Homo sapiens: one gene and its partners. The protein of the gene in region 1 interacts with the protein of each later gene in a pairwise test. Each region holds a gene or a part of one and is shown on either strand. Other genes may lie near its edges. The genes, in order: LONRF3, DES, NOTCH2NLA and CTAG1A.

Evidence for each region.
Region 2: the proteins of LONRF3 (region 1) and DES interact in binary tests that used the Homo sapiens proteins (3 or more experiments, as listed by UniProt).
Region 3: the proteins of LONRF3 (region 1) and NOTCH2NLA interact in binary tests that used the Homo sapiens proteins (3 or more experiments, as listed by UniProt).
Region 4: the proteins of LONRF3 (region 1) and CTAG1A interact in binary tests that used the Homo sapiens proteins (3 or more experiments, as listed by UniProt).

Annotation. Positions count from the first base shown.
Region 1 is NC_000023.11:119,005,604-119,012,626, reverse strand, and holds part of LONRF3 (LON peptidase N-terminal domain and RING finger protein 3), read right to left. Parts: intron 6,507-7,023; coding exon 6,392-6,506; intron 3,502-6,391; coding exon 3,380-3,501; intron 813-3,379; coding exon 654-812; intron 1-653.
Region 2 is NC_000002.12:219,414,020-219,421,395, forward strand, and holds the start of DES (desmin), read left to right. Parts: upstream 1-4,357; 5' UTR 4,358-4,443; coding exon 4,444-5,021; intron 5,022-6,075; coding exon 6,076-6,136; intron 6,137-6,231; coding exon 6,232-6,327; intron 6,328-6,475; coding exon 6,476-6,637; intron 6,638-6,808; coding exon 6,809-6,934; intron 6,935-7,320; coding exon 7,321-7,376. UniProt on the Homo sapiens protein: Muscle-specific type III intermediate filament essential for proper muscular structure and function.
Region 3 is NC_000001.11:146,226,022-146,234,016, reverse strand, and holds the start of NOTCH2NLA (notch homolog 2 N-terminal-like protein A), read left to right. Parts: upstream 1-4,995; 5' UTR 4,996-5,305; coding exon of another isoform or gene 5,306-5,308; intron 5,309-7,995.
Region 4 is NC_000023.11:154,580,529-154,587,327, forward strand, and holds CTAG1A (cancer/testis antigen 1), read left to right. Parts: upstream 1-4,604; 5' UTR 4,605-4,678; coding exon 4,679-4,947; intron 4,948-5,623; coding exon 5,624-5,758; intron 5,759-5,997; coding exon 5,998-6,136; 3' UTR 6,137-6,288; downstream 6,289-6,799.

The DNA of each region.
Region 1 (7,023 bases):
TGACCCCCTTCTTTCTCTCTCTCTCTGTTGCCCTTCTGCTATGCCCTTCCACTATGTTATGATAAAGGAAGAAGGCCCTTGCCAGATGCCAGCACCTTGACCTAGGACTTCCCAGCCTCCAGAACCATGAGAAATAAATTTTGATTGTTCATAAATTATTAGTCTGTGGCATTCTGTTATAGTAGCACAAAATGGACTAAGGAAGCCAGGAACTGTGCTCAGCATTTTATGTACATTATTAACTCACCAATCTTCCAAGCAAACCCAATGAGGTAGGTACTATTATTGTACCCACTTTACAAATAAGGAAACTGGGATACAGAAAGGTTAAATAGCTTGCTCAAACTCAAACTTGCTCCAAGGCTGCAACTAGATAATGAAAGCAGGCAGTTTGACTCCAAGGCCCACATTCTTACAAGTTTTATAACATATACCACCTGTTTAACCAAATATTAATTCTAGGGTTCTTTAAATAGACAGCCTCTCACATGGTAAACTAACCACCAAAGGGACAATGATCCTTACAAATGCTCATATTCTTCAGTTGGCTAAACCTCATGAGCTAGGCCTCCCTGTCTCCTGGGAGTACCCCAAAGTAAAACAGAAATCCCTCATTACACAACCTCCCTTTGCTCGCATGGCTCCTCACTTACCCTTTGACAGGATCTCCAAGGCACATGCCAAACTGTCTCGTGCCTGTCTCAATGCATCTACGAATCATCAGGCGGTAACAAGGCTCAAAGATGTGCAGGGGACAAGGAACGGTGGGATAGGCCATAGTACACACGAAAATAGGCACATTCTTATTAAGGCTGTCAGAAAGAGAAAATGACAGGGATCTCAAAGCAATCGGACAGAACACAAAAATATTGGTCAAATGTTAGCATGTGATACCCCTGGGGGAAGGCAGAGACACCAAGTTTGTTTTTTGACAGTGTCACTTGCCAAAGATACATCAAGTTTTGATGGCTAATAGAAAAATATTGAAATGCAATTGATAGTGTGGGCTGAGTCCCATGATCTGATGCAGAGGTTAGCCTAAGGTCTAAGAAATTAAAATTGGCATTCTACACATTTTAATTTGGCTGAAGAAGTTCTCTAGTATCTTAATATTGTGGATGATAGCTATAATTCATATTTTTTCTTACTTTCATGCTCTCCACTCAAAACAATCTTTTCAGGTGTTTTTCAGGCTGCATGGGGAAGGTTGCTGATGATAGAAGTGGACTCAGCTCTCCAGAAGGGTGGTGGGAAATTCTCTGTAAGGTCCCTAGGGCATCTCAAATTTGCAAGGACCCCAAAGAGTCTGCAAAGGAGGCACAGCTGAAAGGAGGAAGGACCAAGAGATAGGCAAGAATAATCCAGCCCAGTGATGCTCAAATGCTTCTTTGCATCAGAATCAACAGGGGCTCTTCAATCAAGATGACTTGGACACCACATTACCAGAGATACTGATGCATTAGCTCTGGAATTGGGACCCAAGGGTCTTTCTTTTTCTTTTTTTTTTTTTTTTTAAGCGGAGTCTCACTCTGTCACCCAGGCTGGAGTGCAGTGGTGCAATCTTGGCTCACTGCAACCTCCGCCTCCCGGGTTCAAGCAATTCTCTTGCCTCAGCCTCCTGAGTAGCTGGGATTACAGGTGCATGCCACCATGCCTGGCTAATTTTTGTAATTTTATTAGAGATGGGGTTTCACCATGCTGGGCAGGCTGGTCTTGAACTCCTGACCTCAAGCAATCCACCGGCCTCTGCCTCCCAAAATACTAGGATTACACGCATGAGCCACCATGCCCGGCCCTGCCTTTCAATAAGTACCCCCAGAGATTCACACACACAACCCGTTGGGGAACCAAAACAGAGCCAGCTCTTCTGGGATCCTTGTCTTATTTGTCTAGTAAATCCAACACAGGAACATCTGAACCTAAACCTATCAAGAAATATAAGACCAACTGCCCAAATCTCAAAAGGATCAAGTTCAGGATTCATTTACATAGAAAGCCCTAATACATCTCAGTATTTGTTAATAAGACCTTAAATGAGATTTGAGATGAGGGCTCAGAGAGGCTCAATGCTAATTTACAGATCAGAAATAAAGATAAAGATCCCCCGAGTAGTTCCAATGTAAATTAATGAGAAAAAAAAAACGATTTCTAGTTTCTGAGAAAAGCATTAGTCTAAGTGAGGAGTGCATTCAAACAAGCCACTGGCAGAGTTTACGAATGTTCTCTACACAGTGGGCATGAAACCAGAACCATTTTTGCTGTCAGGAACCTTGCCTCTGGAATGCTGTTAGGATTCTACTGCGGATGGAGGGAGGAGAGGGCAGAAGCAAGAGAGGCAGAAATTAGTGATTGCCTCCTGCTTTTTCTGCTAAGGGAGCTGTTCTTACAGCCAGGCAGAGTGCTGAGAGCCTCAATGACGCCTCTGCCCCTCCCCTTCACCTCTCACATTACCTGTGCACGGCAGAGAAAGCGCTTGACAAGTATTAGTATTATTACCATTAATTAAGTGCTTACTATGCACAAACTCATTTGATTTTCATAAGAAGTCCATGAGGTGGCCAGGCATGGTGGCTCACGCCTGTAATCCCAGCACCTTGGGAGGCCCAGGTGGGAGGATCACTTGAGTTCAGGAGTTCAAGACCAGCCTGGCAAACATGGTGAAGCCCTGTCTCTACTAAAAAATACAAAAATTCGCTGGGCATGGTGGTGCATGCCTGTAATCTCAGCTACTCGGGTGGCTGAGGCAGGAGAATCGCTTGAACCCGGAAGGCGGAGGTTGCAGTAAGCCAAGATCGTACCACTGCACTCCAGCTTGGGTGACAGAGTGAGACTCAATCTCAAAAAAAGAAGTCCATGAGGTAAGAACTCAAGTTATTAAATTATTCTCAAGCTACAGATAAGGAAACTAAGGCCCAGAAAGGTTAAATGACCTGCCTAGGGTCGTGAAGTAGACTCACTTTGAGGTAGAACTGGGTCTTAAGCCCGGTTCTGGTTGACACCAAAGTTCTTAACCTCATAGCAACTCCTTATGTATCTGAAAACAATCTTTTGGACATTTCGTTAAGTTCCCCTGTTTATGCTACTCCAATTTACTCTTGCCAACAATACCCTGTTACTGGGGGCAGGGCGTACCCTCATCACTGGTTTCGCTTATGCTTCTTCAGTGGTATGCTGGTATGTTTAACAACTGGCTCTCTGGGTGCAGCGGAAACCCTGGTTTGTAGCACTTGCCAATTTCCATGGTGTAAATACTCTCACCATAGCCAATTTCAAGCAGCTAGCATGACATCACTAAGTCGGAAGCTGGGAAGTAATGTGCACATTCAGCTCTCATTGAGCTGGTATGAGTGAAACAAAACAGAAATATGCATATACATACTTAGAAAGTTCTTCCATTTCCTCTTCATAAAGCTTCCTTCGTTCCTTCAGTTCTTCTGGAAGGAATTTAGCTATGAGCTCCTCCATTATTACATTTTTGCTGTATTTTCTTGATGCCAAGCACTACATGGGGGGAGGCAATTAGACAATATGCAATTAGGTAATACGTAGCAATCAGCAAAACACTTCTGATGTAATCAGTGAACAAGTCAAATGACCCACATATTGGAGTAATCTGGACCCACAAATTAGCAGCTGTTACCATCATAATATATGTATTTTCTGGATGTTAGTTTCATTTAAAAAAACACACATGCAATTGATTATCTTTATAATTAGAAAAAAATTTTTAACAAGGGGGTAAAACCTGCATTGAAGTTTTAAAACTCTCACAGTTTTTCTGAAACACTGAAATCAAGATCATGTTCTTGTCCAAAAAGTAGGGTGGGGGGAATTCTTCCCTTTCCATTTTCTGATGATTGTATTTACAAGCTCACAGAAATTGTCTCCATCTGGGATATGCTCAAAGTTAGTGGCCAAAAGTTTCAGGGAACTAAAAAGCAATTTTCAATCACTGAACCTTTCCTGCCCTGTCCCACTCCCAGCCTAACCCAATGCTTGGCTTCTGGATATTGCCAAATATACCTATTTTTTCTCTTTTAATTTTAGTTTAAAAAAACACAAACAGCTAAATATTGATTTGTCTATTTGCCTTTCTAATATACCATCTAGGTATCACTGAGATTAAAAGTCATGATTTCAAGAACTGGACTCAGGCTCAATTGTCACTGTTACTCTCCTCCCAAACACCCCTGTCCGATGCATACCCAGGGATGTTTAGGTAGTGGGTATTTAACGGTGTGAATCAAACAACTGATGTTAAAACATCTGCAGAGAATTGCTTGCTATGGAAACTACCCCTACAGTCCCAGCAGGGGGAGCGCCTGAGTATAAAACTGTTGGCTTCAAACAATTTTGTTCCTTTCTCAGTATGGGCTGTGTCTCTATTCTGCAGTGAAAATGATTGGAATATTTAATTCTATGTAAAATGGTGCAAGTGTGACCCTATGTGAATAAACAGAGATAGATGAGAATATCTTCTAGACCCCAAGTCCTGAACTCTATAGCATCTGTCTCCAGGATGCCTTATCTGCCACTGTCACTGCCATTGCCTGGCTATGGGAAAATCAACTGCATTTCCCAGTCCCAGTTGTGGGGGATAAGCATTGACTGAGGAGGTAGTCAGTCTAAAAAGTAGGTGACTCCTCTGCTGATACTAAAACAAAAAGCCAGAAAAGGCACATACTAAAATGTTAACTAACAGTGGTTTTCTCTAGGTACTGAGCATATGGGTAGATTTTTCTTCTTTCCACTTAATCTGAATTTTCCAGTGCTACAACAACACAGATGTATTATTTCAGTATAAGGATCAAGGACTTCTCACCTACAATCAGGCCTGCAAATCCTACAACTTTATCCAGGGAAAGGTATGACATTGACCCTCCTCCCAATCCCAACGCATACCCTCAGGGCTACCAGTGATGATGATTTCACTCCATTCCCTTAATTTAAATACTGGGGTGATGGTAAAGCTCAACATGTGACTTCTCTTGACCTGTAGTCACCTAGAGATAGCCTTGCATCTCCAACCTCTCCTCAGGAATGACAGGGGTCAAGGAACATTAACACCGATTGTAAAATGTGGCAGATAAGTCCCTGAGGGAGGGAAAACAAGATAGATTCTCAGGTCTTCTTTATCTGTAGGAAATTCCTTCAGGTTCACTTGAAAAACAAAGGTGGGAGTTTGTGTGATTAGTTTTAGAGAACCTGGAAGTCCTAGAGGGCTGCGGTCTGCAAAAGCTCTAGGGCTTCCAGGTACAGTGGCTCCTGATGGGTTGGACAAGGATCACACTGAAGTTCTGTGAGGTTCTTCTGGGGCCTTTGGAGCTGTTATCTTCAAGCCACAGAATAAACACTGATGATAAGGGAACATCAGGGCTTACCTAGTCCAATCCTAGAGGGGACAAAAGATTTACTCAAGATTACAGTGTATCAGGTGCCACGATGACATTAGAACCAGGATCCAAGTTTATCATCTATTTAATACTTTCGTTTCCAACACAAATTAATTTCCCTACTTACACTGCATAAAAAGCTGCATGTTGCCTCATTTTCCTGAAGGACTTTATGGAGAGGGGGACAGTGGCTATAAGACAGGAGAAATAGGCTGGGCGTGGTGGCTCATGCCTGTAATCCCAGCACTTTGGGAGGCTGAGGTGGGTGGATCACCTGAGGTCAGGAGTTCGAGACCAGCCTGACCAATATGGTGAAACCCCATTTCTACTAAAAATACAAAAATTAGGCCGGGCGTGGTGGCTCACGCCTGTAATCCCAGCACTTTGGGAGGCCGAGGCGGGTGGATCATGAGGTCAGGAGATCCAGATCATCCTGGTTAACACGGTGAAACCCCGTCTCTACTAAAAATACAAAAAATTAGCCAGGCGTGGTGGCGGGCGCCTGTAGTCCCAGCTACTCGGGGAGGCTGAGGCAGGAGAATGGCATGAACCCGGGAGGCGGAGCTTGCAGTGAGTGGAGATCACGTCACTGCCCTCCAGCCTGGGCGACAGAGCGAGACTCCGTCTCAACAAAACAAAACAAAACAAAACAAAACAAAACAAAAATTAGCCGAGCGTGGTGGCATGCGCCTGTAATCCCAGCTACTTGGGAGGCTGAGGCAGGAGAACTGCTGGAACCCAGGAGGCGGAGGTTGCAGTGACCCGCGATCACGCCACTGCACTCCAGCCTGGGTGGGAGAGTGGAGACTCAGTCAAAAAAAAAAAAAAAAAAAAAGAAGACAGGAGAAATAGATGGTTTGAGGGAGTAATGTGCCCTACCACAGTGCCGTGGCTGGGGGTCCAGTTGAACACTGTCTTAGTGCCCAATTCCAAATAAACTAAACAAAACAAGAAAGAAATACTGATTTAAACCAAACAAGAAAGAAATATTGATTTACCTGTGAAAGACCGTCTTTGCACAATGGACACTTTGCGTTGTGATCTAGGCATCTTTCTAGGCATTTTAAGCAAAAAGTATGCCCGCAAGGTGTTGTGACTGGCTCATAGAATAATCTGAAATTTAGGAATCAAAATGGAAGAAAACTGCAATAAGACCAAAAATAAAAGAGTGACTCAAAGCTAAGTTTTTAAAGCATTATTTAGAATATTTTAGGGTGGGGGAGGAGTTCTTTTTAAAAAGTCGCTATTGTTATACTTCAGATAAACATTTGCCTTTCATTTTTGAGCTGGATTAAAATACATTTATTAAAGTTTAGGGCATAGCTAGATCATTTTGTAACATCAATTCTAGTCTATCTCTTCTGGGGAATTCAGATTTTTTGCCCTGTCTGGTCCAAGAAAAATAGAGATTAATGCACAGAGTGTCTGGATAAATTCCATTCCGAAAATATTTAGCCAACCTGTTCACCTGAGTATATGTAAACACACACACACAAACACACACACACGCACACACATTCTCTCTCTTACACATTTACCCATTTAAGCACTTTACATCATATTACCATGGAAAAAAACCGTTTGCTAACCTTGATTCCTCTTTTCGTCTAAGCAATGTTAATGCCTGAAG
Region 2 (7,376 bases), on another chromosome or scaffold:
TAGGGAAACGCAAATCAAAACCACAATGAGCAGCCAGGTGTGGTGGCTTGCTTCCATAATCCCAGCACTTTAGGAGACTGAGGCAGGAAGATCGCTTGAGACCAGGAGTTTAAGTCCTCAGTGAGGTATGATCATGCCATTGCACTCCAGCCTGGGCAACAGAGTGAGACCCTATCTTTAAAAAATGAAATAAGGCTGGGTGTGGAGGCTTACAACTATAATCCCAGCACTGTGAGAGGCTGAGGTGGAAACATCACTTGACCCCAGGAATTTGAGACCAGCCTGGGCAACATAGGTTTGGAGACCTCATCTCTATGGAAAAGTAAAAAAACTAGCCAGGTATGGTGGCTTGCACCTGTAGTCCTAGGTACTTGGGAGGCTGAGGCAGGAGGATCACTTCAGTCCAGGAATTTGAGGCTGCAGTGAGTGATGATCGTGCCATTGCACTCCAGCCTGCGTGACAGAGGCCCTGTCTCTAAAAAACAAAACAAAACAAACAAACCACAATGAGGTACCACCTCACATCCATTAGGAAGGCTACTATTAATATTATAAAACAAATAAACAAATAGAAAATAGCAAGTGTTAGCCAGGATGTGGAGAAATTGGAACCCATGTTCACTGCTGGTAGCAATGTAAAACAGTGCAGCTGCTGCGGAAAACAGCATGGCAGTTCCTCAAAAATTTAGACATAGCATTACCATATAACATAGCAGTTCCACTTCTGAGTATCTACAGAAAAGAACTGAACATAAGTATTTGAACAGATATTTGTACACCAAAGTTCATAGCGACATTATTCACAATAACCAAAAGTTGGAAACAACCCAAATATTCATCAACAGATAAACAAAGTGTGGTGTATACATACAATGGAATATTATTTAGCCTTAAAAAGAAAGGAAATTCTGACCCATGTCACAACATGGATGAACCTTGAAGACGTTATGCTAAGGGAAGTAAGCCAGTCACAAAAGGACAAATATGGTATGATTCCACTTGCATGAAGTACCTAGAGTCAAATTCGTAGAAACGGAAAGTAGAATGATGTTTACCAGGGGCTGGGAGGAGGGGAAGGTGGAGGGTTATTTTTAATACATATGGAGTTTCAGCTTGGGACAATGAAAAAGTTCTGCAGATGGATGGTGGGGATAGTTGTACAACAATGTGAATGTACTTGACGCCACTGAACTGTATACTTAAAAAATGGCTCAAATGGTGAATTTTATTTTATGTATATTTTATCACAATGTAAAAGTGACTCAGCTGTCAATGTACTAAAATGGAACCATCTCTAAGCTGTATGTCATTGAAAAAAGATTGATTCAGAAGTGGGGGCTCCACATAAGAAAATGTGGTTGTGTGTACATGAAGTATCTCTGAAAGGAACCGATAACAACCAAAACCTGGTTGTCTCTGAAGCAGTGTTTGGGGTGGCTGGGTGTCAAAGTGGGAAGGAGACTTACTTTTCATTTTATGCCTTTTTGCACATCTTGAATTTTGTACCATATACACTACCCATCCAAATAAATTGTCGGTATTTTTAGTGTGTCCCATCCTGAGTGGTCCTCTCGGGAGGCTGAACTCTCCCTCCAGCGGTGCTGCCCAGCTCACAGCATGTTTTGGAGTGCTCCTCTTTCACCTGCCTTCCAAGCCTCGGGGTGTTGATTTGCAGCCCTCCATGGTAGCAAATCCTCAGGGGTGGAACTGAATTTTGAAAACAGTCCCAAGTGGTTCGGGGCCAAGTCTGGTGGTTGTTGATTTTGACTAGAGAATAGATGGCATGATTTATTTGTCTTCTGCCTCTTTTCACCAAGGAACTGAGGACTTGGGCTGGTCCAAAGGCCAATTTCCTTATGTGGTCTGGAGATCATTCACAGAGAAGAGCTCCAGAAATGTTGTCCCAGTAGCATCATAGAAATAGGTGTAGAGTCCCCTTCAGGAAGATTAATCTGGTTCTTTGGGCTGTAAGTGATCAAAGCAATACCAAGTGCCTTAAATTAAAAAAAAAAAAAAAAAAAAAAACGGAAAGTTTGTTGGCCCAAGGCCAGGAAGGACAGTGTGGGAGCTCAACTCACAAAGTTGAGGGAAGCACTGCAGGAACCAAGGGGCTGGCCTGCTCCTCCTCTCCAGCCTCCTCTGCTTCTTACATATTGACCTCTCTTTCTTCCTACTCCCCCAGGGGGCAGGAAACATGGCTTCCACAGGTTCCAGTTGAAGAATCCCAGTTCCGTCTATAAATTCCAGGGAAGGTCTCTGATTGGCCCTGCTCATTCCCAGGCCCATTCCTTGACCCAGTCACTGAAGTCAGGGAGATGCAGTAATAAGACTGGCTGGAATCAGGGTCTTTAGGGGTGGAGGGATGGGGAGGAGGCACAGCATGTCATCAAAATAAGGAAATTGCAAAAGAAAGCTTGCAGGCTACTTTGAATGACAATGAGAAAGACGGTGCTGCCTGAGTGTGTTAAGGATCCACATGGTCTCCAAAATCCTCCAGGAGCATACAGTCTAGTCTGGGAGATGAGACACAAAAATAACCAGAACACAACAGCTTGCACTGACTCGAGGGCTGGATAAGAATATCTGGAACTCCCCCATCTATTTCAGAAGCTTGTCTCTTGGATGAAAATTAGACACTTAATGGGAAAGGGCTTTGAAAAGAGTGCAGTAACAAAGCCCCCTTTACAATTTACCCGGCACATTCACACCCATCCTGAGGCCAAAGCCACAGGCTGTGAGGTCTCACTGTCTCAGCTTCCTGAGCTATAAAATGGGAATGATGCTAGTGTCTACCTCCTAGGGTTGGAGAATTGGGGGTCATGGGTGTGAAGTGCTCAGCAGCTTGGCCCACACTAGGTGGTCAGTACATGTAAGGTATTATTGTTGCTACATACATTAGTAGGGCCTGGGCCTCTTTAAACCTTTATAGGGTAGCATGGCAAGGCTAACCATCCTCACTTTATATCTGACAAGCTGGGGCTCAGAGAGGACGTGCCTGAGCTGGGGCTCAGACAAGGACACACCTACTAGTAACCCCTCCAGCTGGTGATGGCAGGTCTAGGGTAGGACCAGTGACTGGCTCCTAATCGAGCACTCTATTTTCAGGGTTTGCATTCCAAAAGGGTCAGGTCCAAGAGGGACCTGGAGTGCCAAGTGGAGGTGTAGAGGCACGGCCAGTACCCATGGAGAATGGTGGATGTCCTTAGGGGTTAGCAAGTGCCGTGTGCTAAGGAGGGGGCTTTGGAGGTTGGGCAGGCCCTCTGTGGGGCTCCATTTTTGTGGGGGTGGGGGCTGGAGCATTATAGGGGGTGGGAAGTGATTGGGGCTGTCACCCTAGCCTTCCTTATCTGACGCCCACCCATGCCTCCTCAGGTACCCCCTGCCCCCCACAGCTCCTCTCCTGTGCCTTGTTTCCCAGCCATGCGTTCTCCTCTATAAATACCCGCTCTGGTATTTGGGGTTGGCAGCTGTTGCTGCCAGGGAGATGGTTGGGTTGACATGCGGCTCCTGACAAAACACAAACCCCTGGTGTGTGTGGGCGTGGGTGGTGTGAGTAGGGGGATGAATCAGGGAGGGGGCGGGGGACCCAGGGGGCAGGAGCCACACAAAGTCTGTGCGGGGGTGGGAGCGCACATAGCAATTGGAAACTGAAAGCTTATCAGACCCTTTCTGGAAATCAGCCCACTGTTTATAAACTTGAGGCCCCACCCTCGACAGTACCGGGGAGGAAGAGGGCCTGCACTAGTCCAGAGGGAAACTGAGGCTCAGGGCTAGCTCGCCCATAGACATACATGGCAGGCAGGCTTTGGCCAGGATCCCTCCGCCTGCCAGGCGTCTCCCTGCCCTCCCTTCCTGCCTAGAGACCCCCACCCTCAAGCCTGGCTGGTCTTTGCCTGAGACCCAAACCTCTTCGACTTCAAGAGAATATTTAGGAACAAGGTGGTTTAGGGCCTTTCCTGGGAACAGGCCTTGACCCTTTAAGAAATGACCCAAAGTCTCTCCTTGACCAAAAAGGGGACCCTCAAACTAAAGGGAAGCCTCTCTTCTGCTGTCTCCCCTGACCCCACTCCCCCCCACCCCAGGACGAGGAGATAACCAGGGCTGAAAGAGGCCCGCCTGGGGGCTGCAGACATGCTTGCTGCCTGCCCTGGCGAAGGATTGGCAGGCTTGCCCGTCACAGGACCCCCGCTGGCTGACTCAGGGGCGCAGGCCTCTTGCGGGGGAGCTGGCCTCCCCGCCCCCACGGCCACGGGCCGCCCTTTCCTGGCAGGACAGCGGGATCTTGCAGCTGTCAGGGGAGGGGAGGCGGGGGCTGATGTCAGGAGGGATACAAATAGTGCCGACGGCTGGGGGCCCTGTCTCCCCTCGCCGCATCCACTCTCCGGCCGGCCGCCTGCCCGCCGCCTCCTCCGTGCGCCCGCCAGCCTCGCCCGCGCCGTCACCATGAGCCAGGCCTACTCGTCCAGCCAGCGCGTGTCCTCCTACCGCCGCACCTTCGGCGGGGCCCCGGGCTTCCCACTCGGCTCCCCGCTGAGTTCGCCCGTGTTCCCGCGGGCGGGTTTCGGCTCTAAGGGCTCCTCCAGCTCGGTGACGTCCCGCGTGTACCAGGTGTCGCGCACGTCGGGCGGGGCCGGGGGCCTGGGGTCGCTGCGGGCCAGCCGGCTGGGGACCACCCGCACGCCCTCCTCCTACGGCGCAGGCGAGCTGCTGGACTTCTCACTGGCCGACGCGGTGAACCAGGAGTTTCTGACCACGCGCACCAACGAGAAGGTGGAGCTGCAGGAGCTCAATGACCGCTTCGCCAACTACATCGAGAAGGTGCGCTTCCTGGAGCAGCAGAACGCGGCGCTCGCCGCCGAAGTGAACCGGCTCAAGGGCCGCGAGCCGACGCGAGTGGCCGAGCTCTACGAGGAGGAGCTGCGGGAGCTGCGGCGCCAGGTGGAGGTGCTCACTAACCAGCGCGCGCGCGTCGACGTCGAGCGCGACAACCTGCTCGACGACCTGCAGCGGCTCAAGGCCAAGTGAGGGCCCGGCACCCCAGACTCCTCTTTCTGCGGGCAGGGCACAGGAGGCTAGGCCTGGGGTCTGGGGTCCCGCTGTCAGCACCTGCCTTCTCCCGGGGCCCGGGACCCTCTCCTGCCCCATGTGGAGAAAGGGTCCTCCACCTGTGTGTTTCAAGGGGCCGTGACCTCCAGGTCTCTCCCCCTGCGATCCCATCTTGCACAGGAGTTTTCTTGGGGACATAGATCAGGGGGTGGATATGGGAGAATTTAGGGGACCCGGTGCCCTGTGGACAGCCCCGTTAAAAAGCATTTTAAGATGCTGGGGCGATATTTATGGGGTCAGGTAGTTGATGGGCAGAGGAAGGGCTGCAGGAGGCCCAGAGGGCAGTGTAGCCAGAGGGAGAAGGGAGGCTGATAGGAGACAGGGAAAGCAGGGCAAGGGCCCAGAGTCCAAGCAACAGCTCTCAGCTCAGCTGTGATGAGGCCCTGGGGGAGGTGGGGGGAGGGGGGAGCTTGGCCCTGGGGCCTTGCCGAGACTGTGTCTTTTTACAAGGTGAATGGACAGGCTGGAGAAAAAGGGAGTAGGTGGGGGTCACAGCTCTCAGAGAGCTTGGGAGGACCTGACTGTAGACTTCACCAGGCTCCAAGAACGAAAAGGGCAGCAAGTGTAGCATATTTGTTGGTCCCACTTCTGACAGGCCAAGTGAGCACAGTCACCCTCCTGCCACCAAAGTCATAAATATTAATTGAGCAGCTATATTGGCCAGGCTGGAGCTGGGAACCAGAAACACAGAGGTGGATAAAATAGACACAGTTTCTAACCCCAGGGAGGTCACACAGTCTGGTGGGGACATAGACTTCAAGGGTGTGGCTCCTGGGCAGAGATTGGGCCACTTCCTGTGCCCTCCCTGGGTGGGTGGGGCCTCTCCACTCCCTGTCTCTCCTGCCTCTACCCAGCAGCCAGGCCCTCCCGCTCTGTCCTGGACCCACCCCCTGGTCAGCCCCCGGCCAGTCGTTTCCACTGCCAGCTTTATCACCCGCAACTGTCTGTCTTTCTGTCTGTCCCACCCAGGCTGCAGGAGGAGATTCAGTTGAAGGAAGAAGCAGAGAACAATTTGGCTGCCTTCCGAGCGGTGAGTGCCCTTCTTTTCCCCTTGCATGGCCTCTGGCCTTGCTCTGCCCCACCTGGGTGGCGGTGACCATGTCCTTCTCGCTTGGCCTCTCCCAGGACGTGGATGCAGCTACTCTAGCTCGCATTGACCTGGAGCGCAGAATTGAATCTCTCAACGAGGAGATCGCGTTCCTTAAGAAAGTGCATGAAGAGGTATACCTTGGCCCCTCTTCCTGGGGTCACTGGGCCATGGGGAAAGCAGCCGGAAAGTGGGGTTGGGGTGAGGCTCTGGCTGGGAATAGGGGTGTGAGGGTGCTGTGTGGGCCCTGAGAGGGGACTGAAGCCCAGTCATGCCCTACAGGAGATCCGTGAGTTGCAGGCTCAGCTTCAGGAACAGCAGGTCCAGGTGGAGATGGACATGTCTAAGCCAGACCTCACTGCCGCCCTCAGGGACATCCGGGCTCAGTATGAGACCATCGCGGCTAAGAACATTTCTGAAGCTGAGGAGTGGTACAAGTCGAAGGTGGGTGGCCTCGCCCGGGGACTGGCATCTCCGTCCCCCTGAATCCCAGCTTGGATGTGCTGCCTGTGGTACCATCCATGGGAGGAGAGCCCAGAGGCTTCATGCTCCCTTGCTCATCCCTACCCGTGCCCTGCATCCTTCTCATTTTTGGGCCCCTTTCTCTGCCCTTAGGTGTCAGACCTGACCCAGGCAGCCAACAAGAACAACGACGCCCTGCGCCAGGCCAAGCAGGAGATGATGGAATACCGACACCAGATCCAGTCCTACACCTGCGAGATTGACGCCCTGAAGGGCACTGTGAGTCCCTGCCCACCTGGCCAGGCCCTGCCCCTTCCTGTCTGCAGTTCACACCCTCACTTTGTGACCTTGGGCCCATCATAGATCCTCTCTGGGCCTTCATCTACTTAAATCTACAATAGGGGTAAAACCAGACAAGTGGATTCCAGTTGGATGCTAAGGAATCAGGGGTTCCTGGGCATCTACCTATGTGGGGACTGTGAGGCTGAATGCAATGTTCCTTTGTATCTATTTTATTCTGAGTGTTCACATATAGACTTAATTTGAGTTCAGGGTTCAACATGGCCTGGACCTGACCATCTGGAGTTGCCTGCCAGCCCCAAAGCTTTCTTTGGGCTGCTAGTGTCCTCTTCCCTTCCTTGACCTGGGTTCCCCCTCTCCTGCAGAACGATTCCCTGATGAGGCAGATGCGGGAATTGGAGGACCGATTTGCCAGTGAGGC
Region 3 (7,995 bases), on another chromosome or scaffold:
CAGGGTCTCACTTTGTGGCCCAGCCTGGTCTTGAACTCCTGGGCTCAAGCCATCCTTCTGCCTTGGACTCCCAAAGTGTTGGGATTACAGGTGTGGGCCACTGTGTCCTTCCTTAACATAATAAAATTGAGATAATCACATTCATAAAAGGGCAAAACTATGTCAACAAGCCCACTGTATTAGTCTGTCTTCACAGTGCTGTAAAGAACTGCCCAAGACTGGGTAATTTATAAAGGAAACAGGTTAACTGACTCACAGTTTAGCATGGCTGGGAAGGCCTCAGGAAATTTAACAATCATGGCAGAAGGCAAAGGGGAAGCAAGGTACCTTCTTCATAAGGCAGCATGAAGGAAAATTAATGCAGGAGGAACTACCAAACACATAAAACCATCAGATCTCGTGAACTCGCTCATTATCAGGAGAACAGCATGGGAGAAACCGCCCCCATGATTCAATTACCTCCACCTGGTCTCTCCCTTGACACATGGGGATTACAATTCAAAATAAGATATTGGGTGGGGACACAGGCAAACTATATCGCCCATATTACAATTACTTACATTACTGATTCCCTTAATTAGAGCAGAGGTAATTAATTGGGTCTAGGCTCAGTGGAAGGGTCTGGCTGGTTCTTAATTCTCAGAGCTAGTTTGAATCTTGAGGTTAACGTCTTGCCTTCTAGAACTTGTCCTGTGTTTGGCTGAACTCTGTGAACCTTTCAGAAAGTAGGTCTTTATTGAGCACATACTCTATGCAAGGCAAAGAACCAACTACTGTGGAGTTTACAAACATGAATAAGGGGTAAGAAATGACTCTTGTCACATGGTTTACAGTCCAGCTGTGTGGGCCACCACAGTTCATATCTTTCAGGCTGGGGACTGGATGAGAGGAAAGTGGACTCAAAATTAATCCCAGTGCTCTCTACTTTCCCATATCCCTGTGCTTTATCTCTGTTGTAGTTATGTTATTTGTATGTTGGCCTGCCTCACTGCTCTGTGATCTCCAAAGAACAGGGACTAGGTTTTATTTATTTCTGCATTGCCGCAGAGCCTAGTATGTGCTTTATAGAGAACAGGCTCTCAAAAAAATTTTAAATTAAAAGAATGTATTCACTTGTTTATGTTTCCTAGTTACAGTGGGCCAGCTTGTTCTGTGCTAATATGGAAGTGACAAGAAACTGGTGTCCCTCTACGCAGAGGTCCCCACACTAAATATCATCTTGGATGTGCTTCACATTGTTGCACAAAGGTACAGTGGAGTGAGACTGAGTAAGAGGACAGAAATAGTGGGGGGTTTGTCTCAGCTCACTAATTACTTATTTAACCTTGGGCAAGATACTTAAAGCTCTATCTCAGTTTCTTCATCTGCAAAATGGGGATAATAATGACTGGGGTGCCTATTTCCCACGATTGTTTTGAGGATCAAATGAGATAATATAATTAAAAGTGTTTTTGGAAGGTCTAAATCACTGTGCAACTGCAAGGCATTATTAAAAGAAATCTTCCTTTTAATTCCTGCTTCCACAAACATCTCATCACATATCCTTGGGTTCCTGGGTTACATGGAGAGATTCGTGGTGTAGCTCAATCTATGTGTCATAGCTATCCCACAATCTCTTCTTCAACTTCTCCAACACACCAAGACATTCTTCCAGTCTTGCACTGCTCCCCAGTTTATATAGATATATATGTTCCTCATTCAGCATTTATGTAAAACATATATTATTGAGCACTTATGTGATAGAAACCGGGGCAAAACAGAAAATAAAACAGAGTTTTATTTTGAGAGTTTTTTACAGCTTGTCGGCTCTGAGAGGACAGACATGAGAACAAATAAGTGCCCAATTCTGCATTTATTTTGGAAGGCAGTTTTATGTGAGTTTAAATCAGTAAAGACATAGATGTATATTTTTAGTTTTGATTAAAACTAAAACAATTGGTAGCCCTTACTCATATTTTTCTATCATTAAAACTTATCTTTAAAAAATGTCTTCAGTCATATTTTTCCCTTACTTCCATTCATATTTACTCTTTACTTCTCTTGTCCTTACCAGAATGTATGCAGTAAGTTTTCATATTGTAACACATTCAACAAAAGTTATATGTGAACATAATAGCTGCTTTCTTTAAAACGGTTACTTTGAGAAACTGCATACCTATTTTTTTTTTTTTTTTTTTGAGACGGAGTTTCACTCTTGTTGTCCAGGCTGGAGTACAGTGGCACGATCTTGGCTCACTGCAATCTCTGCCTCCTGGGTTCAAGTGATTCTACTGCCTCAGTCTCCTGAGTAGCTGGGATTACAGGTGCTCGCCACCATGCCCGGCTAATTTTTGGTATTTTTAGTAGAGACGGGTTTTCAACATGTTGGCCAGGCTGGTCTCGAACTCCTGACCTCAGGTGATCTGCCCACCTCAGCTTCCCAAAGTGCTGGGATTATGACATAAGCCGCCACGCCTGGCCTGCACATTTATTTTAATAATGTTGTCATAGCTACAGTCGCTTCTAGAGTTGCTCTTTGGGGATAACTATCTTATATTCTTCTGAATATATTTTAATAGTGACAAAACTTATCTTTGCAGGTGATTTTTAAAATTTGTATGCAGCCAAGTCACTATGAATTATCTTTAGTGAGTAAAGAGGAAGATCGAACTGGTAACACTGTGGGTAAACAACTGAAAAATAATGTTATCTTTCTCTGAACATACTTGCACAAGACAAATTCCAAAAATATTTTGACTACGTTATTTTTGAAAAGGGTTTCCAGTATTTCAATGTGACTACTTTCACTAATGATACTTGCTTACCTAAAGTGCTTGTTAACATGCAGTTTTGGAACTTCATAGGTCTATGCCCATACTGACTTGTACTTGCTTAGTGTTGTTTTACATTCTAGTTCAACATCTATTATGTGATAGACACTGGGGATTAATAGGCTGTGGTCTTTGCCCATGAGGACCTCAAAACTTAGTTGAGAACACAGAAATACAAAGAGTCCTGTGTGAAAAATAAGTATCGGTGTTAAGATAAAGAAGCGGCAGTGGAAGACAGTGGAGGGACTGTCTGTTAGAGGGAGGAATTTATTGTGGTGTCGGCAAAGCCTTCTTTGGACTGAAGGATGAATTATGATTAGAAGTTCATTAAGAGGAGGAGGGAAGGGGACTACAGGAGTCATTCCAAGCCAAAGGAACAAAAGATACAGGGACAGAAACAGCAAGATATGTTTGGGGGAATCTCAAGTAATACTGTTATTGTGTGAAGTTCACAACAGGGGCAGGGAGGACAGGAGATGGGGCCCAATGACGAAAAGGCCTTGTATGTACCATGTTTAGAAGTTTGAATTTTATCCTATAGGAGTCAGGGAGAGGTTCTATGGGTAGGATTTCTCATCCCAACAGGATTGTAAACTCCCACATCCAATTAGTCACACCTCCATTTTTTTTTTCTGTTTCTTTAACATTGTCTCAGATTCATTCCTTCTGAAATCTACCTTATTAGTTCAGGTCTTCTTAAATTTGTGCCTGGACTGTTCACCAACTCTTGACTGGTCCTGGGGCTCCAGTTCACCTCTTGCTCCCAACAATCAATTTTCTACAGAATTATCAGAGCAATCTTCCTTTCCATCAATCTCAACTCTGTTCAAAAACTTTCAATAGTTTTATGTGACCTAAGAGGTAGCTGCCTCCCCACCCTTTCAGCTTGCCATTCAAGGCTGCATAATTTGGTCCCAACCCCCTTTCCGTCCTTGACTCCTCTCACTGCTAACAGAGACAGAACTCATTTACTTACTCTTCTGACTGTACCTTTGCTTTCACGAGGGCTCTTTCCCGGAATGATATGTCCATACAACTATTGTTGTTGTTCTTACTTTTAGCTCTTTTCTTAGAAGCCCACTTGTACCCAGGTTTGATCACACCCCCTACTCTCCTGCCCTGGAAGTAACTACTATTCTGGTTATAGTCTCTTAATATCTATATCTATATATATGCATCCACAGATAATGTGTAGTATTGTCTTGAAAAAAATATACATAAATGGTATACTTTGTCTCCCTCTGCGATTATTTTCACTGTCATTTAGTTTTTAAGATTTATCCCTATTGACATAAATAGCTATAGTCTTTTCAATTACTGTGTTGCATTTCATTTTATAAATATACCATACATTATTCATCCATTCCTCTAAGGGTGGGCATTTATGTTGTTTTCAAGGTTTTGCTATTACAGTGTTACAACGAATATCCTTAGCTTAGCTGGTCTCCTTGTCTTATACAAATTTTACTGACCTTTCAAGATCCTGCTTTCATCCCAGCTCCTCTGGGAAAGCCTTCCCTGAATCCCCCAGCCCACAGCGGCAAAGTCTTGGTACTCAAAGTTGCTTGTGCATCTTTGGTATCATCCCACTGCCAAGCACACAGCTACGCAAAGTAAGGCACTTAAGAAATATTCGCTACACGGATGAACAAATGAATGAATGAATGGGGCAGCACCACTCCGTGATGGCTCTATTCCTTTTTAATGGACTTTGGCGCCTTGGCCCACTTTCCTTCTTTGACAGCACTGGTCCTACTCCAGAGCATTCCTCTAGCTAGCAAAGCAGTGTGTGGATGTGTGGGTGTAGGTGGCGATACAGACCTCACTGGATGAGGACCGCCTCTCCCTGCAAGTTCACGATCCCGGCAAACTCCAGTGCTTGAAGTTCAGAGTCCTACCCCACCCCGCTCACCTCCACGCCCCTTCTGCACTGGTCAAGCCAGCGAGCCGCTGCAGCCCTGATCGAGTTAAGGCGCGGCGGCCCCCGGGGCCGCTGGAGAAGGATGCGGACGGGGCCAGTGACTCGTAGTAGATCCCTCCGCGCGGAGCTCGGGCCGGCGCTTCTTCCTGCGGGAAACCCCTGGGTGCCCAAGGCGGCGGGGCCGAGGCCGCGGCGACAGTGGGGCGGGGCTTGCGGTGGGAGGAGGCGGCTGAGGCGGAAGGACACACGAGGCTGCTTCGCTGCACACCCGAGAAAGTTTCAGCCAAACTTCGGGCGGCGGCTGAGGCGGCGGCCGAGGAGCGGCGGACTCGGGGCGCGGGGAGTCGAGGCATTTGCGCTGGGCTTCGGAGCGTAGCGCCAGGGCCTGAGCCTTTGAAGCAGGAGGAGGGGAGGAGAGAGTGGGGCTCCTCTATCGGGACCCCCTCCCCATGTGGATCTGCCCAGGCGGCCGCGGCGGCGGCGGCGGAGGAGGCGACCGAGAAGATACCCGCCCTGCGCCCCGCTCTGCTGTGGGCGCTGCTGGCGCTCTGGCTGTGCTGCGCGACCCCCGCGCATGGTGAGTATCGGGCTGAGGGGCGCTGTCCGCGGCGCCCGGGGCTGCCACCTGGGGCGACCCTTCTCCCCCTCGGTCCTTCTCTGTGTGGGAAGGCCAGGCTCGGCCGCCGGCGCGGAGCGAGGCCACTCGCTGGGTTCCCGAGAGTTTGGACATCGCCGGGGGCCCCTCCCGTGGTGCCCCGCCAACCGCCGGGGTTCCCCGCCAACCGCCGGGGTTCCCCGCCGCCTCTGCTCCCCGCGGCCCGGGACCCCTCACACGCCTCCTCGGCAGGAGGGAGGCCGGCAGCAAGTCTCAGAAACTCCTTTTTCGTAGTGCCAGGGTGCAGGGAGGTGGGCAGTTTTGCCCTTCAGGTTCCGCGTTTCCTGGGGTCGAGCGAGAGCCGACGGCGGGCCTCGGAGGGGCTGAGCGAAGGAATGCCAGATTCTGGCGTGGAGAGCGGGGGCAGGGCCGCCAAGCCAAACGGCCTGCACCTTCGCAGCCAGCCTCGCCTTTGCCAGGGGGCGGCACATGGGCCGGGTGTGTGGGCTTGGTTTGGATGGGGACGGGGTTTTGCGGCGCGCCTGAGTTTTGACACTCCAACCCCACCGAAAGTCCGGAGGAGCCGGGTGTGCTGCTCGCGTCTTTGAAAGGTGGAGGCAGGAGAAGTAGGGCAACTGGTGTGGCTGCATGCTGAGGCACATGATTTAAAAATCTCAACTGCTGTTATTCTTTCTGAGGCGCGGAGCTCTGCTGCTGTTTCAGGCTGTGTCCAGACCCAGGAATGTGGTGTGACGATCACCAATTCCTCCAACCTGGCAGCAGCATTTGCTGCTCCTTTGGCATGGCTGGGGGTGGGGCACGGGCGGGTGAGAAAAAGTGGATACGTCAATTCAAAGGGCTTCCTTAGAAAGCTTCTTTGTGGTTGGATGTTTCTAACACGGTTGGACCAAGGAAAGGGAATCAAATCATATCTTCCCCATCCCACCCACACTTTTAGATTCTACATTTCTTCAGACCCTTTAGTGGAAATAACTTGGGCTTTGGAGCCCTGCTCTGTAATCCTGGATTCAAATCCAGCTCTGCTATATGAACTCACCAATAAAATGGGAATGAAATTATCCAGCTAATAGGATTAATTAAAATAATGTATATTAAACGGATGACACTCCAAAGGTGTTCAGAAAGTCCTTTGAGGGCCGAGGCTGTGTTTTACTGCTTCTGAGATTGATGCTCCCAGTGGGATGGTGTCTTGTGCATATTTGTTGAACGGAAAGCAGCCCCTTCTTTTTCTGAGCCTAATCTGAATAAAGATTTTTACCTTCACCAAAAAACTAGTACATGAACTACATCTGTTTTCAAAGAAAAGGTTAGGAAGATGATGAGCTTCAGAAAAATATGGTCTTTGTTCATTGTTAACAGTCAGTCGACATGTCAATCGCAGATGTTTAAAAAGAGAACAAGGTTATTTATCACCCGAAAATAGTACTGGGTTGTTCAGCACCAACTAGATACTTCTTGGAAAGTTCAAATTTCGTACACGTCTAGGTCACTAAGAATTTCAGAAGTGGACCAGGAGGCTTTGTAGTGATGAAGCAGAGCTGTTGTTTCTGAAGCATTTAATAAAGAGCATATATGATGGTGTTTTTGCTTTTCCTTTTTCTTTGAGTGAAAGCTTTAAGTGTAGCTTTAGGATAGAGAGGAGTATAATCAATGAGACAGTCTGAGGGTAATAATCCTTGGTCTATCATTAACTTGTTTTGGTAAATAACTTAATCTTCATGATATGTAGTCTCCTCACCTATGAAGCAGGACTAAAGGAATAACCTGCTTTAGAGAATTGTAGGGAATAATAAATATGATTGTAAAGTGATTTGAAAAATTAAGTATTAAATAATATGTCAGAAATGGGATTACTCTGACACATAGGGCTTCTTTTATTATAGGATCTCAGTGCGTAAAACTATGCCCTCCACCTCTGCTCTGCTGAGGTGCTGCGATTATTAGCTAGCTTTTAGGTAGTCAAGTTGAGTGTTAGTCAAGTTGACTCAAAGGATAGGATTTAGATATTTTGATTTTTAGACAGGTGTTCTTTAGATGCTAAACTAATGCAGTAGAAGAGATTTAGAAGCCTGTTTCTTGGTACAAATCTTAAATCTTCTTAGAGTCTACAGTGAAGGCTTCTTGAATCCTCCTAATTTATTATTGTGTTTTGCTAAGGTACCAATTACAGCACACCCTTCTAAACTTTTGAGTGTTCCTGTGTTTGGCTTGTGGCCAATTGTTAATTTAAACATCACGGAGTTTCTAAGGCAAGGAGATGTTAGCAGTATGTCTGATTGTCTAAACAGCTATCCAGGACCATACTCTTGCTCCTTGTTTTCTTTTGCTTTGCAATGGGAAGTGACTCCCTGATTTTGCTGCCTGCTAGATAATTTCTCAGCTGAATTCTTCTCTTGCTTAAACAAAATCGGAGTAATTTTCTTTCAGATGGTGATGAAATTTAACCTAAAACTATTTTTCCTTTCACTTTCTTATTATTCCTTTTTTTTTGGTGTGGTGGAGAGGAGGAGGAGAGTGATTCCTAGTCTCTCTTATTTTTCTGAATGTTTAGATTTAAAAAATATTTACCCATAACTTCTTGGGATCTCTCTGCTCCATTCCCACCCTACTGCCTCTCCTGTAGGCTTCTATGACATAGAGAAGCAACT
Region 4 (6,799 bases), about 36 Mb from region 1:
GCCACAGGAGCGGAGCTGCCCAAGGCCTCAGGAGCCCACCCCTTGCCTCAGTGTGGCCTGGATGTAAGACATGGAGCCAAAGGAGATTATTTTGGAGCTTTAAGAATTAATGACGATTTTCTGCTCCGCCCGCCCACAGATGTAGTTTCCTCCGCACGTGCGCACCTTCCCTCCTCCCCGCCTGCAGGGTCCATGGCCTCCATGGCGTTTTAGGGGCAGCAGTGCCTGTGGCAGCCTTGGCCTTTGCAGCGGTGGCAGCAGCACCAGGCTCTGCAGTGGCATCCACCGGCGGCTTAAGCCGTAGCACTTCTCACAGCATTCAGCAGCAGCATTGCTGTAACCGACAAAGACACCTTCGAATTAAGCACATTCGTTGATTCCAGCAAAGCACTGCACCATGACCGAGATGAGCTTCCTGAGCAGCGAGGTGTTGGTGGGGGCTTGATGTCCCCCCTTGACCAGTCAGGTTTGGGGACTGAAGAAAGCCTAGGTCTCTTAGATGACTACCTGGAGGTGGCCAAGCACTTCAAACCTCATGGGTTCTCCAGCGACAAGGCTAAGGCAGACTCCTCCGAGTGGCTGGCTGTGGATGGGTTGGTCAGTGCCTCCAACGATGGCAAGGAGGATGCTTTCTTTGGGACAGATTGGATGTTGGAGAAAACTGATCTGAAGGAGTTCGACTTTGATGCCCTGTTGGGTATAGATGACCTGGAAACCATGCCAGACGAGCTTCTGGCCACGTTGGATGACTCGTGTGATCTCTTTGCCCCCCTAGTCCAGGAGACTATTAAGGAGCCCCCCCAGTCCAGGAGACTATTAAGGAGCCCCCCCCAGATGGTGAACCCGATTTGCCATCTCCCAGAAAGTTTAACCCGACCAGGTTGCCCCCTTCACCTTCTTGCAACCTCTTCCCCTTTCCCCAGGGGTCCAGTCCTCCACTCCAGATTATTCCTTTAGTCTAGAGCTGGGCAGTGAAGTGGATATCTTTGAAGGAGCTAGGAAGCCAGACTCCACTGCTTACATTTCCAAGATCCCTCACTGCACAAAGGAGGAAGACGCCCCCTCAGATAATGATAGTGGCATCTGTATGAGCCCAGAGTCCTATCTGGGCTCTCCCTCTACCTCCAGGGGCTCTCCGAGTAGGAGCCCGCCATCTCCAGGTGTCCTCTGTGGCTCTGCCTGCCCCAAACCTTATGACCCTCCTGGAGAGAAGATGGTAGCAGCACAAGTAAAGGGTGAGAAACTGGATAAGAAGCTGAAAAAAAAATGGAGCAAAACCAAACAGCAGGAACTAGGTATCGCCAGAAGAAGAGGGTGGAGCAGGAGGTCCTCACTGGTGAGTGCAAAGCGGTGGAAAAGAAGAACGAGGCTCTGCAAGAGAGGGCGGATTCCCTGGCCGAGGAGATCCAGTACATGAAAGATTCGATAGAAGAGGTCTGCAAGGCAAGGGGGAAGAAAAGGGTCCTCTAGTTGAGGGTAGTCAGGAGCGTCAATGTGCTTGTACATAGGAGTCTCGCGCTGTAGCTGTGTGTTCGAATAAATTATTTTGTAGTGGAAAAAAAAAAAAAAAGAATTAATGACTGTCCTGTTGGGTTTTGGACTTGCATGGGGCCTGTAGCCCCTTTGTTTTGGCCGATGTCCCCCTTTTGGAAAGGGAGTATTTACCCAATGCCTGTACCTCAATTTTATCTTGGAAGTAGCTAACTTGTTTTAGATTTTACAGGCTCATAGGCAGAAGGGACTTGCCTTGTCTCAGTTGAGACTTTGGACTGTGGATTTTTGAGTTAATGCTGAAATGGGTTAAGACTTGGGGGACTGTTGAGAGGAGATTATTGTATTTTGCAATGTGAGAAGTACATGAGATTTGGGAGGGGGCAGGGGTGGAATGATATGATTTGGATTTGTGTCCCCACCCAAATCTCATGTTGAATTGTAATCCCTAGTGTTGGAGGAGGGGACTGGTGGGAGGCGATTGGATCATGGGGGTCGATTTCCCCCTTGCTATTCTCGTGATGTTGAGCTCTCACAAGATCTGGTTGTTTAAAAGTGTATAGCACCTCCCCCTTCACTTTCTCTTTCTCCTTCTCTGGCCATATAAGATGTGCCTCCTTCCTCTTTGCCTTCCGCTATGATTGTAACTTTCCTGAGGCCTCCCCAGCCATGCTTCCTGTAGAGCCTGCAGAACTGTGAGTCAATTAAACCTCTTTTCTTTATAAATTACTCAGTCTTAGGTAGTCCTTTATAGCAATGCGAGAACGGATTAGTACCGTCAATATTGATGAGAATGTTGAGCTATGTGTATGTACGCTGACACATTATGGTGGAAGCGAAAATTGGCTCAAACCACTTGGGAAAACATGGCATTATCTAGTAAATTTCGAGATATGTATTGGCTGTGATACAGCAATTCCAAAAAAAAACTTGGACATGTGCTTCAAGAGACCTGTACAAGCATGTTCATAGCCAAGGGCTGGAAACTATCCAAATGCCTGCCCATCATCAGCAGAATGGATAAATTAGAGGACTATAAAACTCTGCCGTAATGTAATAGGTAGTTTCCAAGAAATCCAATCGCATACAATGTGAAAATGTGTTACTGTGGGGTTAATGAAATGAATGAGGCAAGCCCGCTGGACCATCCAAATCTGTCCTGCTCCCGGCTGGAGTTTGATGCCATCTAGTGGCAGACGTTGCTCTGGCTGAAATATTGATGGAGATTTCCGGTCCAGTGGCTGGCTGAGACTTCCAGGACAGTGGCAGTATCTCCAGGAATCTCTCAGTCAGTTAGGACTTCCTTTCTTGACTTGATCTGAGGATAATAGGCCGGGAAAATAATGGGGACCCGGAGACCCTCCCTCTGTCTTCCTGCTTCCTAAGACAGGGTCACATGCACTTTACTCTCCCTTCCCTGACCTGTTGAAGGTAAGAACTTTAGCCTGCCTCTGTCTGAGAATGGGGAGACTGAGCAGAGGACGACAGGAAGGATGGCAATCACTAACCGGGTTATGTCTGATTTTCAGCTATTCCAGGTGTTAACAAGTTGTGTTCTCTGGTTTTTAAAATTCATCATTTAATGAAATATATGTAATGAAATACAGCAGTGAAAATAATAAACTGGAGGTACACGCAAGAGCTTGGGTGAATTTTTCTTTTCTGTAAGTAAAAACATTTTTAACTGATGTATGATAACTCTGCATATTTATGGGATACATGTGATATTCTGATACATGCACACGCACACACGATGTAATGATCAAGTCGGGGTATTTAGGATCTCCACCACCTCAAGCATTTATCATTTCTTTTTTTGGGGAACATTTCCTATCTTTTAGCTATTTTGAAATATACAATAAATAATTACCTATAGTCCCTCTACGGTGCTATCAAACACTAGAACTTAATCCTTCTATGCAACTATATGTTTGTCCCCATTAACCTCCCCACCCTCCCCACCTTTCCCAGCGTCTGGTAACCATCATTCTGCTCTACCTCCAAAAGATCAACGTTTTTAGTTTCCACATGAGTGCCAATATGCTTTTCCCAGGTGCAGAGGCTGCTGATTCCTGGATTTGGAAGGTGGGGGAGAGTGGTTTGGATTTCAGTACCTCCCCCTTCCTCAGGGCTAGGCCCTGTCTGGTCACCTCCTGTTGCTACAGGTGTGCCTGGCACAGACATTCAGCTCCCGGGGCCGTGCCGCCCTCACCCCTGCATGCCTCTAGAGGTACCTGTCCCGTGGATTTGACCCCCTTCCAGACACACAAATAGATCACCACTGAGCAGACACAGGGTCACCTCCCAGCTCCCTACCAGGCAAGAGCGACCAGGGCAGGGACTGATACTGCCGAACCCAGGAGCCAGGCCCGACCCAGCCTCAGGTCCAGCAGGTCCCGCCTGTCCACCTGGGCCAGGCCTAGAGCCCGGGAGCCCCTGGCTGGTGGGAGGCCACCCGCAACCCACCCCACACGCAGCTCCAGCTCCCCCACCAGGCGGGGCGACTAGGACAGGGACAGAACCCGTTGAACCCAGGAGTGAGATCCGGCCCCGGGTCCCGCTGGGCCCTCCCGTCCACCTTGGCTGGACCTGGCGCCTGGGAGACCTTGGCTGGCGCGAGGCCACGCCCACCAGACATGCAGTTCCAGCTACCCCACCAGCTGGGCGACCAGGACAGGGACGGAGGCTGCTGAGCCCAGTTAGAGGCCTGCCCCCCGGGGTCTGTCCTGGGCGCTCCCCCAAGGACGGACAGGGCAGGCAGGGTCCGGGACGATGGCCGCACAGTCCCGGCCCCGTGTTCCCAGGCCCGTCTTGCTCCTCGATGTGAGGGAGACCCGGGGGATGGGACAGGCTGGGCCCCGCAGTGCCTGACTCCCTGCAGGGCTCCCGGGACAGGGGTCCGGCGGACAGCCGGCTGCTCAGGGGTGAGGGGTCCAAGCTGGCATTGCGGCCACCTTCCGGCCCGGGCTCTCTTGGGGAGGGGCGGGGTTGGTGAGAACCGGTCACGTGCTCCGGGGCTCACTCGGGGTCTCCCAGGGCCGGAAGTAGGGCCCCTGTGCGCAGGCGCCCTGAGGATCCCGGGCTGCCCATCTCACGCCAGGGGGCGGAACTTCCTGCAGCCTCTCTGCCTCCGCATCCTCGTGGGCCCTGACCTTCTCTCTGAGAGCCGGGCAGAGGCTCCGGAGCCATGCAGGCCGAAGGCCGGGGCACAGGGGGTTCGACGGGCGATGCTGATGGCCCAGGAGGCCCTGGCATTCCTGATGGCCCAGGGGGCAATGCTGGCGGCCCAGGAGAGGCGGGTGCCACGGGCGGCAGAGGTCCCCGGGGCGCAGGGGCAGCAAGGGCCTCGGGGCCGGGAGGAGGCGCCCCGCGGGGTCCGCATGGCGGCGCGGCTTCAGGGCTGAATGGATGCTGCAGATGCGGGGCCAGGGGGCCGGAGAGCCGCCTGCTTGAGTTGTATTCTGTTCTGTTCTGTTCTGTTCTGTTCTGACAGTTCTGGTGGCGAGGTGGGGGCCGGGAGATGGGGAGGGCAGGGCCAGGTGGGGGAGGAGGCGGGGGAGATGCGAGTAAGTGGTTGGGTGGGGGTGGGGGTGGGGGTTGGGAGGTGGGGATATGAGAGGCCAGCTGCGAGGAGGGGAGGAGGTAAGGGCTGGGAGGTAGAGGGGGTGGGGGTGGGGGAGAGGGGCTGGGTGATTGGGTGAGGGGCACCGGGTCATGCGGGGAGGGGAGCAGGGGCCAGGAGATAGGGGGACCCAGGTGTAGGAGGGGATCAGGAGGTGGGGGGAAGGGGGCAAGATGGGAGCGGGTGGCGGGAGGTGGTTGGGATGGAGGGTCGAGTGATGAGGAGGGGGCCGGGTGATGCCACAGGGGGCAGGGTGGGGAGGGGTCTTGTAAGGGCATGGAGGAGTCAGCTTGGGGTGCAGCAAAGGAAAGTGGGGAACCAAGACAGCTGGGTGGGGTGTGCTACTGGGCCAGTGCCTGGGGAGACAGCCTGGGGGGGATGGGCTGGGCAATCCGGGGTAGGGGGGAGGGGTGGGGGAGTGGGGGAGGGGGAAGCTGGCCTGGGGTAAGCAGCAGGCCGGAGCCACAGGCCAAGTCCTAGGAGAGGATGCCTTAACTGGGCCCCCACCAGCTACCTCGCCATGCCTTTCGCGACACCCATGGAAGCAGAGCTGGCCCGCAGGAGCCTGGCCCAGGATGCCCCACCGCTTCCCGTGCCAGGGGTGCTTCTGAAGGAGTTCACTGTGTCCGGCAACATACTGACTATGTCAGTTCAGGACCAGGACAGGGATGGGGCCTGGGTGGGTGGCGGTCACAGCGTGGCAGGGTGGGGGCTGGGATCCGCCTACACCCCACGGTCAGGCTGCTAGAAACCTGGGAACACCCCAGCACAGGGTCTCAGAACAGAGACCTGGTACACCAGGCCCGCCGCCACCCGAGGGAGCCCAGGGAGATGGGTGCAGAGGTGTCGCCTTTAACGTGATGTTCTCTGCCCCTCACATTTAGCCGACTGACTGCTGCAGACCACCGCCAACTGCAGCTCTCCATCAGCTCCTGTCTCCAGCAGCTTTCCCTGTTGATGTGGATCACGCAGTGCTTTCTGCCCGTGTTTTTGGCTCAGCCTCCCTCAGGGCAGAGGCGCTAAGCCCAGCCTGGCGCCCCTTCCTAGGTCATGCCTCCTCCCCTAGGGAATGGTCCCAGCACGAGTGGCCAGTTCATTGTGGGGGCCTGATTGTTTGTCGCTGGAGGAGGACGGCTTACATGTTTGTTTCTGTAGAAAATAAAACTGAGCTACGATTCCGTGTCTGAGTCTCTTTTCGGCGAGCGAAGGCACCTTCGGACTTGCATGCCCTTGTCCTCGGGTTGCAGGGGAGGCTCTGGGATTCACAGATTGAAGTAGCACAAGGTAACGGGAGGCAATTTGGGAAATGGGGGAAAATGAAAAGCCACTGGGTCCCGCCATTCAGCATTAACTACTGTGGACATTTTAGAATATTTTCCTCAATATACTTGCATTTATATGTTAAATATATGACAGTAGCATATATAATGTTTTTCCAGGTCAGCATTAAATTTTTTCCCAAATTGTTTTCATTGAACATATGAGCTTTTTTACTTGGGAAAAATTCTTTGAAAACGTACTTGAATAGATGCATAGAACCAGCATTATCATATCACTGTTAAGCATGTGATATGGGTTGGGCATGGTGGCCCACACCTGTATTTCCAGCACTGTGGGAGGCTTGAAGCGGGAGGATGGCTTGAGACCTGCAGTTGGAGGCCACCCTGGGCAATGTAGCGAGATTCT